4 linked regions of the Homo sapiens genome follow. The protein of the gene in region 3 purifies or fractionates together with the protein of the main gene of each other region. This does not show direct contact. Each region holds a gene or a part of one and is shown on either strand. Other genes may lie near its edges.

Region 1 (4,897 bases), about 34 Mb from region 3:
TGAGACCAGCCTGGCCAACATGATGAAACTCCATTTCTACTAAAAATACAAAAATTAGACGGGCTTGGTGGTGCACGTCTGTAATCCCAGCTACTTAGGAGGCTGAGGCAGGAGAATCACTTGAATCCGGGAGGCAGAGGTTGCAGTGAGCTGAGATCATGCCACTGCACTCCAGCCTGGGTGACAGAGTGAGGTTCTGTCTCAAAAATAAATAAATAAATAAATAAATAAATAAATAAATAAATAGGCTGGATACAGTGGCTCACGCCTGTAATCCCAGCACTTTGGGAGATCAAGGCAGGCAGATCACCTGAGGTTAGGAGTTTGAGACCAGCCTGGCCAACATGGTGAAACCCCATCTCTACTAAAAATACAAAAATTAGCCAGGTGTGGTGGCGGGCGCCTGTAATCCCAGCTACTAGGGAGGGTGAGGCAGGAGAATTGCTTGAACCTGGGAGGGGGAGGTTGCAGTGAGCCAAGATTGCACCACTGCACTCCAGCCTGGGTGATAGAGCAAGACTCCATCTTGAAAAAATAAAATAGGCCGGGCGCGGTGGCTCACACCTGTAATCCCAGCACTTTGGGAGGCTGAGGCGGGTGGATCATGAGGTCAGGAGATCGAGACCATCCTGGCTAACACGGTGAAACCCCATCTCTACTAAAAATACAAAAAATTAGCCGGGCACGGTGGCAGGCGCCTGTAGTCCCAGCTACTTGGGAGGCTGAGGCAGGAGAATGGCATGAACCTGGGAGGCGGAGCTTGCAGTGAGTCGAGATCGCGCCACTGCACTCCAGCCTGGGTGAAAGAGTGAGACTCCCTCTCAAAAAAAAAAAAAAAATAAAATAAAATAAAATAGGCTGGGGGCAGTGGCTCATGCCTGTAATCCTAGCACTTTGGGAGGCTGAGGCGGGCGGATCACCTGAGGTCAGGAGTTCGAGACCGGCCTGGCCAACATGGTGAAATCCTATCTCTACCAAAAATACTAAAAATTAGCCGGGTGTTGTGGCAGGCGCCTGTAATCCTAGCTACTCAGGAAGCTGAGACAGGAGAATCACTTGAACCCGGGAGGAGGAGGTTGCAATGAGCCGAGATCGCGCCATTGCACTCCAGCCTGGGCAACAAGAGTGAAATTCTGTCTCAAAAAAAATAATAATAATAAAATAGAATAAAAATAAAAATAAAATAAAATAAATATAATAAAACAGGCTGGGTTCGGTGGCTCATGCCTGTAATCCCAGCACTTTGGGAAGGTTAGGCAGGCAGATTGCTTGAGTCCAGGAGTTCGAGGCCAGCCTGGACAACATGATTCGAGGCCCATCTCTACAAAAAATAAACAAAAAATTAGCCAGGCATGGTGGTGCATGATTGTAATCCCAGCTACTCAGGAGGCTGAGGCAGGAGGATCACCTGAGGCTGGGGAGGTCGAGGCTGCAGTGAGCCATGATTGTGCCATTGCACTCCAGCCTGGGTAACAGAGTGAGACCCTGTCACAAAAACAAAAACAAAACCATAAATAAAACCAAAAACAAACAGCAGCCACTTGATGGCAGAGGCTACAATCTTCCTATGCCTGATTGATCCACACCAGAACCCACTGAAGACAGAACTTTTCTCATCCCCATTTTACAGATGAGCAAATGGAGGCTCAGAGAGGTTAAGTGGTATACCCAAGGTCACACAGGTTGGTGAGAAGGTTAGAGCAGTATCTGTTCCAACTGTCCCTTTAGCCCATGTCATTTTTTTTTTTTTTGAGAAGGAGTCTCGCTCTGTCGCCCAGGCTGGAGTGCAGTGGTGCAATCTTGGCTCACTGCAAGCTCCGCCTCCCGAGTTCATGCCATTCTCCTGCCTCAGCCTCCCAAGTAGCTGGGACTACAGGCGCCTGCCACCATGGCTGGCTAATATTTTTTTGTATTTTTAGTAGAGACGGGGTTTCACTGTGTTAGCCAGGACGGTCTCGATCTCCTGACCTCATGATCTGCCCGCCTCGGCCTCCCAAAGTGCTGGGATTACAGGAGTGAGCCACCACGCCTGGCCTAGCCTATGTCATCTTGAGACTCCATCTCTGCCCCAGCCCCACCTGGCCCCCACACCTTTGCCAATGACTCGGTCACTGTGGGTGACCACCCGCTCATGGGGAATCAGCACATCCTTGACCTCAGCCAAGAGCGCAGAGTCCAGGTCCCTTAGCTGGATGGACTCTTTCCGCAGCAGTGGCACACAGGATTCATCTTCACTATCGGAGAAGGATGCTCCATGGACACAAGTGGTGGAATCCAGACCATCAATGGCAGGGAGTGCTGTGGGGAGAGGGAATGAGGAGCTTGTAGGGACAGGGGGTGGCTTTAGCTTCTCATGCCTCCACTATCTCACCAAGGCCACTTCTGTAGTCAGAGCCCGAGTACAGAATAGGCAGGGGTGTGGCTCCAGCAGTCTGGTCCAGGGATGCCAGGTCATTCAGGTTGGGAGGAAGAACTGTGGAAAGAGAATCCTTGGTGGCTTGGCTTTCCAAGCTCCTAGGGGCCGACCCCTCTGGGGAGGACTTAGATCCCTAAGTCCTGGGCAGAGAGAGGATGTAGGGACTTGAAGATGCCATTGGTTGGGGGTAGGGGCTGATTAAAGGTAGGAGCAGAGAACTCACCTAGCTGCTTCCTCCGCCACCAGTAGCTGAAGACCAGTGCAGTCGCCAGTGCAGCCACAAGCAGCAGCAAAGGCAGCAGGATACCAAGGAGCGTGCTCTGTGGGACCCCATCTGGCCCTGGCCGCACCACTCTACCCAGGATATGACATTCACCATCTACGCAGACCTGGGGGCAGGTGGCAACTCAGGCCCAGCCTGTAGGCCCTCTGCCCGTGTTTCCCAGGGAGGTCCAGCTGGGCTGCCTACCTGCAATGGGGCACCATCCTGGCCAAGCTGCAGGGATGGGGGCAGGGGGCAGACAACCATGTCCCCCCGGAACTCGTGCTGGCAGCTCTCACCACCCACGGTCACGTTGATACCCACACAGTCAGCCACAGCGCCCAGCCCAATATACTGCAGAGAGGGTCATGAGGACCAGCCAGTAGGCTGGCCCCTACTTTCAGATCCCCAACTGTCCCTGCCCCTATCCCTTACACTTACCTCAAACTTAATGGCATGCTCCTCAGGCTTCAGTGGAACTAGGTTGGCACTGGGTGGATGGGGTGGGGGTAGGAAGCGAAAGCCAGGCAGTGTAAAGCCAGCAGCTCCATCCCCTCGGGCACTCAGATTCCCTGCCACCCATCCCTGGGGGTCTCGGACCACATATTCAGGAAGGCGGCACAGCTGCTGCTCTGGAAGCTGCCTCTCACACTGCTGGGACCAATATGAGAGTGATTAGCCAGGAACCCCACCTGTGATTGCTCCTCGCCTCAGCCCAGCACGAGGTTGGGCTGCAGCTCAGGGAACTCATCCAGCCTTCCTCCCTCCTGGCCAGCACTCACTCACCCTGCTTTCCACTGCCCTAAGCCCGTCATGGAATGACAGCACTAAGTGCCATGCTGAAGTTAGATGCTGGCCACAGATGGTGATGTGGGAGTTGCTGTGGAAGAGGGTAGGGTGGTAGGCTTTGGGTGTTCTCCAAAGCTGGCTCTCTCATTCCCCAGAGGCCAGAGTGGGCAAAGAGGCAGTGCTTACATGTAGCCACAGTTGGGGCTGATGCTTAGCACGACAGGGTCTTCTCTGTACTGGAAGGTCCAGGAACCAGGTACCTGGGCACCCCCCACCTGCAGGCTAAGGGGGACACTGGCCACCGTGGCCCCAGGGGGTGTGGCACATAAAAGCTGCCCCTCACTGACCCTACAGGAACAAGAGATTGGGCTCAAGGTTACCCTCTTTGTGATGGCCAGGCCCACTTCTTCCAGGGGCCTGTTGACCTCTCCCAGTTCGTCTGTTATCTCTCCCACCTGCCCCACTCCATGGTCTGTCTGAAAATAAGGTGGTCCCAGGAAGACATCCCAAGAGGGTAAGGAGGGAACAGGTTCCCCACAGCCTTGGCTGGAGCCATTGGACTCTGTGATGGGCTCTCTTGCCTCTGGGCTGAAGAGGGCAGTAGTCTTTTCTTCCTGGACCTGCTCTCCACACCACACTGACCATGTAACAAGCACTCTTCCCTCCATCCTGACAGAATCCGGGTCCCCACCTGGATAGAACCCTGCGGCCTCCCATGCCTGCCTGGTGGTACTTACCGTGCTAGCAGACACTCAGTCCCATTGACCAGCACAGCCCGGCTGGTGCCTACAGACAGACTCTGGCCTTCAAGAGTGAGACAGGTGCCTCCTGCCCGTGGGCCAAAGAGGGGTTGCACTGCTATCAGCACTGGCTCCTAAGAGGACATAGAGGTGGCTTAGGCAGGTCCTCCACTCCAAGCCCCTCCCTTCCCGTACCATGCACTGGCCAAGGGCACAGACAGGGCAAGGTAGCCTCACCATGAAAGAGAAGCCTCTCAGCACGGAGGTGCCGTCTACCCGGAAGTGCTTGCCCGGTGGCATGTTAGTCACGGTGAGGCTGACGTTGGTAGGCCCCACTGCCTGGGTGCCCAAGGGCTCCAGTTCACACTCAAACTCCTCTACAAAGTCTTTCCGGGGCACTGGTCTGGGGCACCAGGGGAACCCCTGAGGTCAGCCAGGAATTACACAGGCCTAGATGCATGCCTGCCACAAGCCACAGGGCTCCTCTGAGCCAGAGAATGGCATTTCTCCACCCATGCCTCCCTCCATGGAAGGAAGGTTCTGGTGGGGCAGAGATTAACCTTGGCTGGTCCATGAGTGAACAGACAGGAAGGGCACATGAAAGCTCAAAAAGGGACAGAGACCTTTTTGACTCTCAAAAAGCAGTCAGAACCACTGCAGCTTCCCCCATCCCCCCTTGCCTCTGATAAG
Region 2 (5,367 bases), on a different chromosome or scaffold from region 3:
CATGTTCAATTGTGGCAAGTAGGTTTTCTGAGAGATTTATCTTCATGAGAGATTTCAATAGATTGGTCTGGAAAACTCTGTGGCAACTCAAGGTAAAGTAAAAGGGAGGAGACGCAAAAACTGCTTTAACACTAAAAATCTGTAAACAAAGTTAATGGTAATCCCTCTATTGGAATGGAAATCCCAAATCAGTAATAATAGCTCATGAAAGCAAGGTGTCAGAAAACTGCTTTGCCAGCAAATCATTTGTCTGTTTAGAGCTCATCATTCTTTTTTCTTTTTTAAATCATCACGGATCAACATTTTTAATTTTTTTTTTTTTTTTTTTTTTTTTTAGATGGAGTCTCGGTCTGGAGTGCAGTGGCGCGATCTCGGCTCACTGCAACCTCCGCCTCCTGGATTCAAGCGATTCTCATGCCTCAGCCTCTGGAGTAGCTGGGATTACAGGCACGCGCCACCACACCGAGCTAATTTTTGTATTTTTAGTAGAGACGCGGTTTCAGCATGTTGGCCAGGATGCCCTGGGTCTCTTGACCTCGTGATCCACCCGCCTCTGCCTCCCAGCGTGCTGGGATTACAGGCATGAGCCACTGCGCCCGGACTTTTTTTTTTTTTTTTTTTTTTTTTTTTTTTGAGACCGAGTTTCACTCTTGTTGCAATGACGCGATCTCGGCTCACTGCAACCTCCGCCTCCCGGGTTCAAGCGATTCCCCTGCCTCAGCCTCCCGAGTAGCTGGGATTACAGGCATAAGCCACCATGCCCGGCTAGTTTTGTATTTTTAGTAGAGACGGGGTTTCTCTGTGTTGGTCAGGCTGGTCTCGAACTCAGGTGATCCGCCCGCCTCGGCCTCCCAAAGTGCTGGGATTACAGGCGTGAGCCACAGCGTCCAGCCAACGTTTTTAATTCTTAAAACTGTGTTTGAATGAGTGTTGGGTTTTTGTTGTTTGGTTTTCTTTGGGGTAAGGCGGTTATCACCTTACACAAAAAATTTACATCATAATATGAAAATGCCCATTGGTTCATTCAAGGAAAAACATAAAGAATTTCTAACAGAATGGATTAATGGGGTGGAAGAAATTTATCCATTCTCTAAAAATTTTTCAAATCCCAAAAACTTTTTTTTTTCATTTTACAAAATATTTACTTCAAACAGTAGCTGGCATTTTGCATTTAAGAGTTCGACCAAAAGGGACAGAAATATAAATTGCTAATTATTAGCAATGGAAATGAAAATGAATCAGAAGTGACAATAAAGATTTCTAAAATTACAAGTCGATGAAAAATGAATTTACTGTAAATTGGTTAACACAAATCGCTGTAGTAACATATCTGCTATGTGAAATTTTTAAAATAAAAACCAGGGCGGAGAAGGGGAGAAGGAGATCTCTTTCCAAGGCCCACCACCCAAATTCTAATTCTTAGTTCACAGATCCAAATAATAATAATGTGTTGTTCTATGACTTCTAGTATTAAAAGTAAATATAAATTTACTCTGCATATTAAACATTTACATTATTCTAGGACTTCTCCTTTAAATTACGATAGTACACACACAAAAACCTTATTTATCTAATTGCCTTTCGTTGGCACATAAAGACAAAGATCGTTTGCAACATAATCGCGTTCTGATAGGTTTGACCCTCTCTAGTCTTCGTAGAAGGTGGCCAAGGTTTCCGTTACCCCGGCGTCCCTCGGGCACCGCGGAAACGAAACTCCATCAGGCTCCGCCCCACGGTCTGCGGAGTGAGCCAATCAGGGCACAGCCTGCGTTGACCGCGTGCCGGGTGTCATGGCGGCCTGCAGGTACTGCTGCTCGTGCCTCCGGCTCCGGCCCCTGAGCGATGGTCCTTTCCTTCTGCCACGGCGGGATCGGGCACTCACCCAGTTGCAAGTGCGAGCACTATGGAGTAGCGCAGGGTCTCGAGCTGTGGCCGTGGACTTAGGCAACAGGTAAGGAGTGACGTGCGTTCACTGTATTGTCATAAGGTGTCTTGTCCAGCCAGCTTGAGCGTATTCATCTCCCAGGGTAGAAACCCGGTATCCCAGCTCTATTTAATCTCTCCTTACCCTAAACCTAAATTCCAAATTTCCCTTTCCGGGTTTGGAATGTGTCTCCTCGGACCCTCCTTCCCGCGCTATGTCGTTCTCTCTGTTGGTGTGTGCCGGGCTTCTTTGCTCCATCCGACTCTGTCCGTCCACCTGACTTCCGATCTCTTTACTTTCCGGGACCACTGGGCTCTTAAGTGGGAAACATTCCACCTAGGAATAACGAGTTGACGTGGGTGAGACGAGGCCCCCCGGGATGCTGGCCCGGACCCTGGAAGCTGGGGCTCTGATGCCCCTCGAGCTGGGACACAGACCTCAGCAGAGGCTCCGGGTGGCTAGTGCACCACGGGTCCCCCACGTCCCACTCCTCGGGCTCCTTCAGCCTCCTCTTCACCAGGAGCCTACCTTGTAGAAGTTGAACACCAGGTCCAGTTCACAGACATTGTGGAAATATTCGTTTAAGACCTGGGAGAGGAAGGCAGAGATGGTAAGAGATGGACAGGGAGAGAGCCACACACGCACAGAGATGGGAACAAGGTCATCAGAAAGAGACAGCAAAAAAAAGAGACCAAGAGGGAGGCAGGGGAGAGAGAGAGACAGTGACAGGGAGAGAGGCAAGGAGACACACAGAGAGAAACAAAAGCAAAGATCGATGCAAAGAGATGGCAAAAGGTCAGGCGCTCACACCTGTAATCCCAGCACTTTGGGAGGCTAAGACGGAAGGATGACTTGAAGTTAGGAGTACAAGATATCATGTCATCCAATCTAATTGATTGCCTAAAGTGTGACCACTATGACCCTGGGTTAGGAGGAAAAGGAAAAGTCAGTTTTTTGAACGCCAGTTATATGATCCTCGCAATCTTTTTAAACCTGTCGTAAAGGTACTATTACCCTCATTTTATAGTTAAGACTACAGAGGCTCAAAAAAGGTTAGATAACTTTCTAAGAGTCTATAAAAAAGTTAGTATTATGGGACTAGGTGGTTTTTGAATTTCTGTTTTTTGCTTACAAAGCCCATACTTTTTTTTAGGGGACCGCTTTTTAAAAAAAAAGTTTGCTTTAATCGTTCTTAGAATAAATGGAATTGCTAATGCAAACTTCATATATCTAAATTTTTTACGTGTACTTTGAAAAAATTTGGACCCCAGTTCATACAAAAAGCAAAAAAATCATTTTGAATCCAGGTCTCGCACTCTAACTTTGATAAGTAGTTGACATTGAACAGGTTAATTCACCATTTTCTTGTGCAAAGTGTGGAGAGTGGATTCCATCAAGGGTCTGCAAACTTTTCTATAAAGGACCAGATAATATATATATTAGGCTTTTTGGGGTACACACTGTGTGTATGTGTTTACAAACCCTTTAGAAATATTTTAAAAAACGGCCGAGCACAGTGGCTAACACCTGTAATCCGAGCACTTTGGGAGGCTGAGGTGGGTGGATCTCCTGAGGTCAGGAGTTCGAGACCAGCCTGGCTACAATGGTGAAACCCCGTCTTTACTAAAAATACAAAATTAGCTGGGCGTGGTGGCAAGCACCTGTAATTCCATTTACCTGGGAGGCTGAGGCAGGAGAATCGGTTGAACCCAGGAGGCAGAGGTTGCAGTGGCAGAGATCGTGCCATTGCACTCCAGCCTGGGTGATAAGAGTGAAACTTTTGTCTCAAAAAAAAAAAAAAAAAAAAAAAATATATATATATATATATATATATATATATAAACATTTTTAATTGAAGAGTAATATAGAAATAGGCCACAAGCTGTAGTTTGGTCACCCCTAGACTAGGTTATCTCTAAGGCTTATTCCACTCCCAGCATTCATTAATTCTGATTTTTGAGGGAAGTGGACATCTCTTCCATTCTTCAAGGACTACACATGCTTCAAAGAAATGCCCAGAACATTTCATTCAACAGACACATACTGTGAGATAGGCATTAGATACTGAAAACAAGATGCAGCTGCTGCCCTCCATATTTTCCATAAATAATCTACTTTGACTCTTTCATTTATTAATCAACCTGTTCCTCTTTTGTAGGTAGTTCTTTTTAAACTCGTGTCATGTGTTGAAATAACTAGACTAATAAAATATCATACCTGCTGGATAAATTCTTTCATTTTTGTCTTGTTTGCCATTGGCAACATTTATTGAGTGACTACTATGTACCAGGCACATTATATTTGTTATCATATATATTCTTTACTGCATTCTGGAAGATTATATAATTATTGTAGGTGTTTTTCAGATAGTATATTTAATGCTTACAGTAACCTTGGAGGCAGGTGTTTAATTTTCATTTCAGCAAGCTTTTATTGAGCATCTACTATGTATCAAATCACTGAGGATATTCAACAGAATATGCCACAGTGGGCAAAATGCTAAGGCAGTAGCCCCGTTAGTAGAGTAGAACTGTAGCTTTCACAGTTTTTCTTCCCTGTGTTTTGGGCCCACTTCTGTCTAGTTAAAGATCCTCCACTCCCCTTCACAGAGATCACTTAGGTATTCAGAATTTACATTGGTAGACAGAATGCCAGTTCCTGGTAAGTTTTGAGAAGTACTGGTGGCATGTTACTCAGGGTTAAACAAAATTTCAAGATGTCAGATTTACATTTGCCTCATGAAACCATTACTTAATACTGATTTCAGCTATAGGTTGTTGCAGGTCTGTGATACTACACAGTGTGACTGGTTTTGAGTATCTCATTCCTTCCATCTACTCAACATACTAATCCAGCATCAGCCTCTCTGTACCTCATTCCCATTAGTCACAGGAGACCCATTTTATTGTAGGCTTTCATCATTATAACATCTGTGTTGAATAAATAGAAACCCAACTAGAATTTCTCAAATATTCCCTGATTTTAAAAAAAAACTAATATTTCAGAGTCAAGAATTTGATACTACAAAATCATTGTATTTATTAACATATATTAAATGTACATACTTTGTTCTGACTTTCAAACTTAACAAAATGAGTCTAACTGAATAGATAAATATGCTTTTCATTAACTCAGGCTTCTGGCAAAGGTATTTAACAGGTGAAAATATTAAGGGTTGTTCCTTCATCTCCTTGGTATGTGAAAGACAGAATAATCTTACTTGGGGTAGGGCATTGGGCCTGTCTACATGCTTGTGTTTGGTTTGTGCATTTTCAGCACCAGACTATGATAGAATGTTGCCGAAACTGAGTTCATGTGACACAACATCTTTCTCTTTCTCTGTATCTTCAGGGGTCACTGACTTGGTTTCATCTCAAAACACCTTTTGATGAATCTTGAGCTCTTTGACAAGTTTTGCTGGTCTGTTTCAAGACATCAGTAAC
Region 3 (5,273 bases):
ACACTGAGCTTGGATCTTTAAAAAAATAATTCTTCACTTAAAGTAAATAGAACTACACATACGTTCACACATACACACACATATTAGGAACTCTAAAATGTTAAAAGTGTTTATGGCAGCTGGGTGCGGTGGCTCATGCCTGTAATCCCAGCACTTTGGGAAGCCAAGGCAGGTGGATCACCTGAGGTCAGGAGTTTGAGACCAGCCTGGCCAGCATGGTGAAACCTCTTCTCTACTAAAAATACAAAAATTAGCCGGGCGTGGTGGCAGGGGCCTGTAATCCCAGCTACTTGGGAGGCTGACGCAGGAGAATCACTTGAACCTGGGAGGCAGAGGTTGTGGTGTGCCAAGATTGCACCACTGCACTCCAGCCTGGGCGACAGAGAGACTCCGTCTCAAAAAAAGAAAGTGTTTATCTCTAAGTAACTAAATTACTGGTGCTTTGAATTTTCTTCCTAATACTCTTTTTTAAGTTATATCTATTTAAGGTATACCATATGATATTTTGATGTACATATAGTGAAATGATTACTACAGTCAAGCAAATTAACATATTCATGTTACTTTTTTTCCTAAGATATTGTAGAAATAGTCACTTTTTTTGGTAAAAGTACCTAAAATTTACTCTCTTTGCAAATTTACAATACACAATATTATTAACTATGGCTTTCATGTTGTACATTAGATCTCCAGGCTTTATCGTACTTGACTGAAACTTTGTACCCTTTGACCTATCTCCCTATTCCCCCTCCTCCTCCTCATTCCCTCCCCGGTAACTAACTCTACTTTCAGTTTCTAAGAATTGAAGGGGTTTTTTTTTTCCAAGTCTTTCTACCCTAGATCAGCATTAGCTCTACTCAGTAAAATCCTGCAGTGACCTTTTTAAGAAAATGTTTTCAGTAATAATAATGTCATTACCAGCAGTTCATGTTTGCATTTGCCATACCGCCCAAGGCATGGATGAGACCTGGGCCAGAAACAACAAGGCAGACTCCTGGCCTAAAAGCAAAACAGAATTTATTAAAATCAGGTCAAATGTAACAACTGATTCATAACACTTTAGTGTGAAACATGGCAATCTTGGACTTCAAAGGAAGGACATACAAGTCTTTACTATAACTGATAAAACAATTATTAGAATATTTTTAATTAAAAAACAAGGCGATATATATATATCGCGATATATATACATACACACATATACGTATATAGTGTATACACTATATATGTATATAGTGTATATATACGTATATACGTGTATATATACACACACTATATACATAGTGTATATATATACACACTATATACCTATAGTATATACTATATACGTATATATACACACACTACATACGTATATATACACACACTATATACGTATATATACGTATATACGTATACGTATATATACACACACTATATACGTATATATACACACTATATACGTATACATACGTGTATATATGTATACATACGTATATACGTATACATGCATGTATATATGTATACATACGTATATATGTATACATGCGTGTATATATGTATACATACGTATATACGTATACATACGTGTATATATGGATCCATATATACGTATACATACGTGTATATGTATACATACGTATATATATGTATACATATATGTATATATACTCTGGGCACCAGAGTATACTCTATATATATGTATACATACAGACACACGTATACACACACGTGTATACATGTAGACACACGTATACACACACGTATGCATGTAGACACACGTATACATACACACACGTATACATACACACACGTATACATACACTTGTATACATATACACTTGTATATACACTTGTATACATATACACATGTATACACATGTACGCACATGTGTGCGTGTATACACATGTACGCACATGTGTGCGTGTATACACATGTACGCACATGTGTGCGTGTATACACATGTACGCACATGTGTGCGTGTATACACATGTACGCACATGTGTGCGTGTATACACATGTACGCACATGTGTGCGTGTATACACATGTACGCACATGTGTGCGTGTATACACATGTACGCACATGTGTGCGTGTATACACATGTACGCACATGTGTGCGTGTATACACATGTACGCACATGTGTGCGTGTATACACATGTACGCACATGTGTGCGTGTATACACATGTACGCACATGTGTGCGTGTATACACATGTACGCACATGTGTGCGTGTATACACATGTACGCACATGTGTGCGTGTATACACATGTACGCACATGTGTGCGTGTATACACATGTACGCACATGTGTGCGTGTATACACATGTACGCACATGTGTGCGTGTATACACATGTACGCATATGTACATATATACTCTGGGCAAGAGTGAGATGCTATCTCAAAAAAAGTGTATATATACACACACATATACATATATGTGTGTGTATATATACACACACATACGTATATATGTATATATACACACATACACACATACGTATATATGTGTGTATATATACACACATATATATGTGCGTGTGTGTATATATATACACACTTTTTTTTTGAGATAGCATCTCACTCTGTTGCTCAGGCTGGAGTGCAGTGGCATGATCAGGGCTCACTGCAGCCTCAACCTCCTAAGCTCAGGTGATCTTCCCACCACAGCCTCCCAAGTAACCGGGACTACAGGCAGATGCCACCACACCCGGCTAATTTTTTGTATTTTTTTTTGGTAGAGATGGGGTTTCACCATGTTGCCCAGGCTGGTCTTGAACTCCTGGGCTCAAGCAATCTGCCTGCCTTGGCCTCCCAAAGTGCTGGGATTACAGGCATAAGCCAGCATGCCTGGCCCAAAAAAAGAAAGATATCGGATTTCTTGTGAGAAATAAGGTACCTATCATTTTCACACCTTATGTCTCTAACCACTTATTTTGATCTGGACTACATCTGGACTAAATCAAGTTAATGGTATACAGAAGCAAATTTTTGACTGCTGAGTTCATTTTTGTATGAAAAAAGGTTTTTTTTTCATTTCTTAACAAATAAATATAACGTCGACTGATCTTTGATAGGAAAGTAATTCTGAATGCAGTGCTCTGCCCAAAATGTTTTGTGTTTTTTTTTTTGTCTTTTTTTTTTTTTTTTTTGAGACGAAGTCTCGTTCTTGTTCCCCAGGCTGCAGTGCAATGGTGTGATCTCGGCTCACTGCAACCTCCGCCTCCCGGATTCAAGTGATTCTCCTGCCTCAGCCTCCCAAGTAGCTGGGATTACAGGCATGTGCCACCACACCCGGCTAATTTTTGTATTTTTAGTAGAGACGGGGTTTCACCATGTTTGGCCAGGCTTGTCTCCAACTCCTGGCCTCAGGTGATCCACCCGCCTCGGCCTCCCAAAGTGCTGGGATTACAGGCATGAGCCACCGCGCCTGGTCCCCAAAATCTTTTAAAACTGAATTTGAGGCTGAGCACGGTGGCTGACGTCTGTAATCCCAGCATCTTGAGAGGCTGAGGCAGATGGATCACTTGAGTCTAGGAGTTCAAGACCAGCCTGGGCAACATGATGAAACCCTGTCTCTAAAAAATATAAAAACTAGCTGAGTATGGTGGTGCACACCTGTAGTGCCAGCTACTTGGGAGGCTGAGGCAGGAGAATCGCTGGAACCTGGGAGGTGGAGTTTGCAGTGAGCCGAGATGGTGCCACTGCACTCCAGCATGGAGACGACAGAGTGAGACTCCAAATAAATAAATATTGAACTTGAATGTTTTACCCTTCAGTGTGACTTTCTAAGCTTAAACCACTCGGGAAAAAGGTATCTCAATATAATTCAGTTCACCATTTTACACTTATAAAATAATTTCTTAAAAATTTCTGTTTAAGACAGACTTGAAAATAAGTAATTACCACCAAGTAAACTAAACTTCTAGAACAGTACTATCCAACAGAACTTTGTATAGTAATAGAAATGTTCTGCATTTGCAGTATGATACGGTAGCCACTACTGACATGGTTACTGAGCACTTGAAATGTGGCTACTACAAACTGATAAACTATGATTTAAATGTTATTTAATTTTAATTAATTTAAATGTAAACAAGTCATACGGCTCGTGGCTACTATACTTGCCAGTGCAGCTCCAGAAGTTCATTCAAACAGCAAAAATGTTTTAAATATGAACTTTTCGGCCGGGCATGGTGGCTCACGCCTGTAATCCCAGCCCTTTGGGAGGCCAAGGCCAGCAGATCATGAGGTCAAGAGACAGAGACCATCCTGGCCAACATAGTGAAACCCCATCTCTACTAAAATACAAAAATTAGCTGGGTGTGGTGGTGCATGCCTGTAATCCCAGCTACTGGGGAAGCTGAGGCATGAGGATCGCTTGAACCCAGGAGGCAGAGGTTCCACTGAGCCGAGATTGCACCACTGCACTGTCCAGCCCAGATAACAGTGCAAGACTCCATCTCAAAAAAAAAAAAGTATGAACTTTTAACCATTCTCTTAATCATTGTTCTAGCATTTTTTACATTAAGGCATTAATTAATAACTATAATTTAAATGCTTTCCAAGCTAAATGAAAAGATTAAAATATTTGTCATATGTAAATAAAGCGGCAGAAAACAGTGACAATAGTGTTACTTGATGGCCTATTTTTTTCAGGTTCAAATTCACAAGTTCCTTATCACAGAAAAAAAACTATTCTGGTGAGGTCTAGACTTTGAGAATCTTATTAGTTTGCATTTCTTAGCAACTGAATTACTAGTTTCATTTTTGGAAATAAAAAAATGTATTAAAACTAACATATGTGAAAAAAGTATGATACACATTCCTGTGAGAGTCCAAATTCTGCTTAAAAAATACATAGATAAGGGAAAAAACTGGAAGAAAATGACCAATTCTTAACAGTTCTGAGATCATAGGTGATTTTCTTCATCTTTTTTCCTTTTTTTTTTTTTTTTTTTTTTTGAGACGGAGTCTCACTCTATCACCCAGGCTGGAGTGCAGTGGCGCAATCTCAGCTCACTGCAACCTCCGCCTCCTGGGTTCAAGCCGATTCTCCTGCCTCAGCCTCCCGAGTAGCTGGGATTACAGACGCATGCCACCACACCAGGGTGATTTTTGTATTTTTAGTAGAGATGGTGTTTCACCATGTTGGCCAAGCTGGTCTCAAACTCCTGACCTCAGGTGATCCACCTGCCTCAGCCTCCCAAAGTGCTGGGATTACAGGCGTGACCCACCGTGCCTAGTCGATTTTCATTTTCTTCTTTGTGCTTTCTATATTTTCCAAGTTTT
Region 4 (4,897 bases), on a different chromosome or scaffold from region 3:
CCCAGCTACTCGGGAGGCTAAGGTGGGAGAATTGCTTGAACCCAGGAGGTGGAAGTTGCAGTGAGCCAAGATAGCACCACTGCGCTCCAGCCTGGGTGACAGAGTGAGACTCTGTCTCAAAAAAAAAAAAAAAAAAAAAAAAAAAACTGCTTGTAATACAAAGATTTTTAAAGAAGTTTTTCGTTCTTCTGTGACAAAAATTACAAAGTAGCTTACATACAAAATGTTCAGAATGAAGAAAAAAATTGCTACTAATATTTAGTGACAAAAACCAGTAAAGTTTACTGTGTCCAACCTACACAAGATAAAAAATCTAGATTATTCTGGGTCTCTGGGACATGGCAGGTGTTTTACCCCAAGATGTCTATGTTTAAGCAAATTACATTAAGTACCACAGAAAAAAGTCTGTTGTACACTACATAATTATGCCAAGTAATTTATGTGAAAAATCTGAACTTCACATTTCATACTTTATATTGGCTAACTTATCAAATTTGAAACCCTTGGGGAAATCTTTCTTTCTACAGGTATATCTTTCAGTAGGTCCTTTCCTTGTTCATCGACTGCTGTTTGTCTAGAAGAAACATTAATCAACTTAGTAAAACTGAACCAGCCACACAAGCTAATAATAATTTTGGTAGGTATATAGAAAATTAATGATGCCATATTCAAAAGCAAACAGAAACTACTTTATCACATACACTTTCCAAAAACAGAACAAAAGTAGAAACAAATATTCTGCAAAGGCTTCAGGGGTTACTTTCACATGACTTTCGACCCTGTGTAATCTATGTGCCATCCATTTCAGTTAGAGGCTTAAGAGCAGATAAATACGGTCTTTCAGCATGAAAACCAGTACCCATTCTGGTAGTTACTAGAACCCATTCTGCCTTTAGCAACCCTGAAAAAACTGGCGAGCCTGGGGGTCATGAGAGAATTAGTCATAAACAGAAAGTGGTTTCTTCACGGGCCTCTGCTTTCCTGCCCAAAGCTATTTTAACTTGCTGTTCTCTTTTCTTCTTTTCCCCTACAGGGTCCTTGATTTGATATACTCCATTTCACCTAAATAGATTACATAGAAAGCATAGTGTACATTTATTATAACTTGTTACAACTGAAACGCTTACTATGGTCATAAATAAGTCCATCATTGATTCTTTCAGCAACTCCCCAGTTCTCCATAAACCAGATGGCCTCAAAGCTTGTACTTTGTGACATATATCAGAATGTGATCTTGTGATCTGTATGAAAACTGCAATCCATTACAGCTTAGCATCTGACATAGTTTAGACATGTGTCCCCTCTAAATTTCGCATATATATATATATATATATATATATATATATATATATATTTTTTAAGACGGAGTCTCTCTCTGTCACCCAGGTTGGAGTGCAATGGCATGATCTTGGCTCACTGCAACCTCTGCCTCCCGGGTTCAAGAGATTCTCCTGCCTCAGCCTCCCTGAGTAGCTGGGACTACAGGCACCTGCCAACGTCCAGCTAATGTTTTTTGTATTTTTAGTAGAGATGGGGTTTCGCCATGTTGCCAGGCTGGTCTCAAACTCCTGACCTCAAGTGATCTGCCCAACTCAGCCTCCCAAAGTGCTGGGATTACAGGTGTAAGCCAACGGGCCCAGCCTCTAAATTTCATGTTAAACTGTAATCCCCAATGTTGCAGGTGGGGCTTGGTAGTTGGCTCATGGGGGTGGATTTCTCACGAATGGTTTAGTGCCATCCCCTTGGTGCTCTCCTTGAGTCAGTAAATGAGCTCCCTTGAGATATGGTTGTTTAAAAGTGTGTGGCACCCCCACACCCCCACTCCTGCTTTTGTCATGTGATGTGCCTGTTCACACCTCACCTTCTGCTATGACTGTAAGCTTCCTAAGGCCCTCACCAGAAGCATGCCGGCACCATGCTTCCTGTACAGCCTGTAGATCCACGAACCAATTAAACCTCTTTTCTTTATAAATTACCCAGTCTTAGATATTTCTTTACTGCAATGCAAGAATGGCCCAATACAGCATCTAATGAAACCTCTTTATTACACATGTGTATGTGGCGAGTCACTCAATACAATCAATGGACTTTAAAAACCCCTCCACAGAGCTTCACCAACCCACTGCACTACAGAAATGAAATTCCACCCAGTAATTCTTTTCCCTCAGTCCCTACACAGGGTATGTTTCCCAAGCAGAGGCTGAACCAGCCCACACATTTCTTCTAATTGTATTTATCAGGTCTTGCTCAGGGGCTTAGAAACTGACAAATTTTTTTAAAGTAATAACAACAATTCTTCCAAAAGGTTTTTACCAGTTAGAAGTAATTTTAAAGGTCTTCCCAGCACAATAACTTATTTTATTTTTATTTCTATTTTTTTGAGACAGAGTCTCACTCTGTCACCCAGGCAGGAGTGTAGTGCTGTAATCTCGGCTCACTGCAACCTCTGCCCCCCAGGTTCAAGTGATTCTCCTGCCTCAGCCTTCCGAGTAGCTAGGGGTGGAATTACAGGTATGCGCCACCATGCCTGGCTAATTTTTGTATTCTTAGTAGAGAGGCAGTTTTGCTGTGTTGGCCAGGCTGGTCTCGAACTCCTGGCCTCAAGTGGTACACCTAATTCGGCCCCCAAAGTGCTGGGATTACAGGTGTGAACCAATGTGCCAGCCATAACTTAATTTAAAAAGGTAAGCAACGTAGAAAGTATTATCCACACAAGCAATTTAGAAGGGATTTCGACAATATGAAATGAACCCATCACCCCACCTTCACTTAGTTTTCACTCTAAATCCCATATCTGGCCAATCAAAATGAAATCTGACAGATCATGAGGAACACAGCATTCATGAATCCACATAGTAGAGAACTGAATTTGGATGTCCAAGTTAGGCAAAAAAAACTCTTGGGTGATAATATAGCCTACCTTCATGTCCTTTGAGGGTTGTGATGACTGAACACGTGTTCTGTTCAAGCTTCAGCAGGGTGATCTGCCCAGAATAATCACCAACGAAAGCATACTGAGTGTCAAAGTCATATCTGAGGAGAAGCAGTCAAGGATGTAGAACAGAAATCACCTGAAAGTCCTCTCATAAGAGAGATACCAGCATTAGTCAAAGTTAGTTTTCAAAGTTAGAAAACATGCATTTTAAAGAGAATAAGCATACACGTAAAACTATAACAAGAAAGGAAACACCCAACTGAAAAGCATGCAATATGTAAATATTGAAGGTAAAAATTAAAACAGCTGTTATTACTGAGAAAGTTTATATTCATTCATTCAACAGGAACTCATTGAGTGCCTGTTACTATATCAAGCAAGATCCCAGGAACTGGCAATAAAAAAAGAGCTGGTAGGGCAGACACACACGAAAACAAGTAGATATAATCAAGTACAATAAAGTGTCAAAGAGTAAAACTGATAACTACTGGGCTGGCTGCAGTGGCTCATGCCTGTAATCTCAGCACTTTGGGAGGCTGAGGCGGGCAGATCACTTGAGGTCAGGAGTTCAAGACCAACCTGGCCAACATGGTGAAACCCCGTCTCTACTAAAAACACAAAAAATTAGCTGGGCGTGGTGGCACACGCCTGTAATCCCAGTTACTCAGGAGGCTGAGACAAGAGAACAGCTTGAACCCAGGAGGCAGAGGCTGCAGTGAGCTGAGATGGTGCCACTGTACCACTCCAGCCTGGGTGACAGTGCAAGACTCTTTCTCAAAAAAAGAAAAAAAAAGGAAAGAAAAGAAAAAGAAATTGCTAACTACTGAAAACAGCAAGAAAGCTCTGAAACGTAATGGTTATTTATGAAATATCTCTGAAAATAATGTAAATCTGACAGTAAATACAAGACATGAATCCATGTTTCTTTTGGCCTAGAGAATTTAGCTATAAATGAAGAGGATGATTCACTTTAAATTACTGTGGATAGTTTAATAATCCAAAACGCAGTTATTTGTGGCGGTAGTACATTTAAATTTAGAAAATATATTAACTATTGGTCACAACTCATTACTTTCTCGATTTGTGGTCATAGATATTTGTGGAAAACCAGAAATTTATACACGACATGTTAACTACTATTTGTAATAGGAAAGCTATTTACAGTAGGATAACTATCACTCTTCCAAAACACGGGTCAAAAAGAGCACCGTAAACTAGGGCATGAACTGTGATTCTGTGTCATTTTCTACAAATCCATTTTGAGAGGCCTAGCACGTAACAAAAACGCTTATGTAGCACATACTATATCAGAGTATTTTTTGCTTGTTTGATCCTAAAGTATATGATACTATTTTAAATATCTCATGCTGTGCATTCATTTGTAGCAAACATTTTAAAGAAAGGCTTTCAATGGACAGAATTTTACTAAGCCAGACATTCAACTCTGAGAGAGAAACTACTGCGGGGTGTCTGCCTGTTGTTGATAACCTTGATCTTGCCATCACTAAGATACACAGCAGGCAGAGGTATCCTTAGGTAAGGGCGAGCTCTACATGAAGCAAATTCCATGTAGTAGCAGGAATTTTTTAGGCCGTGATTTTTAGCATTTTGGGGGATCCTGAGCCATCTTTGAGAGTATTATAAGGATTATGGGTCCTCTCCACACAAAAAAAAGCATTAAGCAAAAGTTTTGTGTAAAACTCCTTGTAGCCCATTTAGGAACAAACCCCAGGGCTATAAACCCTTAATGTTCAGTACATATACTTACAGAGTCTGCAAATAACCAATTACTAGAAGACAAGTTCCTTTTTTCCTTCCTTCACACAATAAAAAGTCTTTCCATTAGAAACACAAAGACATGAGAGGAAGGGTTTGCATTAATGGGCTTGGGTTTTCCACAATTTTGAATTAAAAACCTATAGCACCTCCCAGCACAGAACAATTCATTTCATTATTTTTAAT

The links. The genes of interacting proteins can lie anywhere in the genome.
Region 1: the proteins of HACL1 (region 3) and MST1R fractionate together in Homo sapiens (co-fractionation; one large-scale study listed by BioGRID). This does not show direct contact.
Region 2: the proteins of HACL1 (region 3) and PNPT1 fractionate together in Homo sapiens (co-fractionation; one large-scale study listed by BioGRID). This does not show direct contact.
Region 4: the proteins of HACL1 (region 3) and WDFY1 fractionate together in Homo sapiens (co-fractionation; one large-scale study listed by BioGRID). This does not show direct contact.

The regions. Positions count from the first base shown.
Region 1 is NC_000003.12:49,893,076-49,897,972, forward strand, and holds part of MST1R (macrophage-stimulating protein receptor isoform 1 preproprotein), read right to left. Parts: intron 4,611-4,897; coding exon 4,445-4,610; intron 4,342-4,444; coding exon 4,205-4,341; intron 3,816-4,204; coding exon 3,654-3,815; intron 3,559-3,653; coding exon 3,465-3,558; intron 3,333-3,464; coding exon of another isoform or gene 3,330-3,332; coding exon 3,120-3,329; coding exon of another isoform or gene 3,045-3,119; exon of another isoform or gene 3,033-3,044; coding exon 2,886-3,032; coding exon of another isoform or gene 2,806-2,885; coding exon 2,640-2,805; intron 2,474-2,639; coding exon 2,372-2,473; intron 2,299-2,371; coding exon 2,092-2,298; intron 1-2,091. UniProt on the Homo sapiens protein: Receptor tyrosine kinase that transduces signals from the extracellular matrix into the cytoplasm by binding to MST1 ligand. Regulates many physiological processes including cell survival, migration and differentiation.
Region 2 is NC_000002.12:55,690,247-55,695,613, reverse strand, and holds the start of PNPT1 (polyribonucleotide nucleotidyltransferase 1, mitochondrial precursor), read left to right. Parts: upstream 1-1,769; 5' UTR 1,770-1,790; coding exon 1,791-1,951; intron 1,952-5,367. UniProt on the Homo sapiens protein: RNA-binding protein implicated in numerous RNA metabolic processes. Catalyzes the phosphorolysis of single-stranded polyribonucleotides processively in the 3'-to-5' direction. Mitochondrial intermembrane factor with RNA-processing exoribonulease activity.
Region 3 is NC_000003.12:15,590,682-15,595,954, forward strand, and holds part of HACL1 (2-hydroxyacyl-CoA lyase 1), read right to left. Parts: intron 1,000-5,273; coding exon 919-999; intron 1-918. UniProt on the Homo sapiens protein: Peroxisomal 2-OH acyl-CoA lyase involved in the cleavage (C1 removal) reaction in the fatty acid alpha-oxydation in a thiamine pyrophosphate (TPP)-dependent manner.
Region 4 is NC_000002.12:223,896,038-223,900,934, forward strand, and holds part of WDFY1 (WD repeat and FYVE domain-containing protein 1), read right to left. Parts: intron 3,034-4,897; coding exon 2,921-3,033; intron 1-2,920. UniProt on the Homo sapiens protein: Positively regulates TLR3- and TLR4-mediated signaling pathways by bridging the interaction between TLR3 or TLR4 and TICAM1.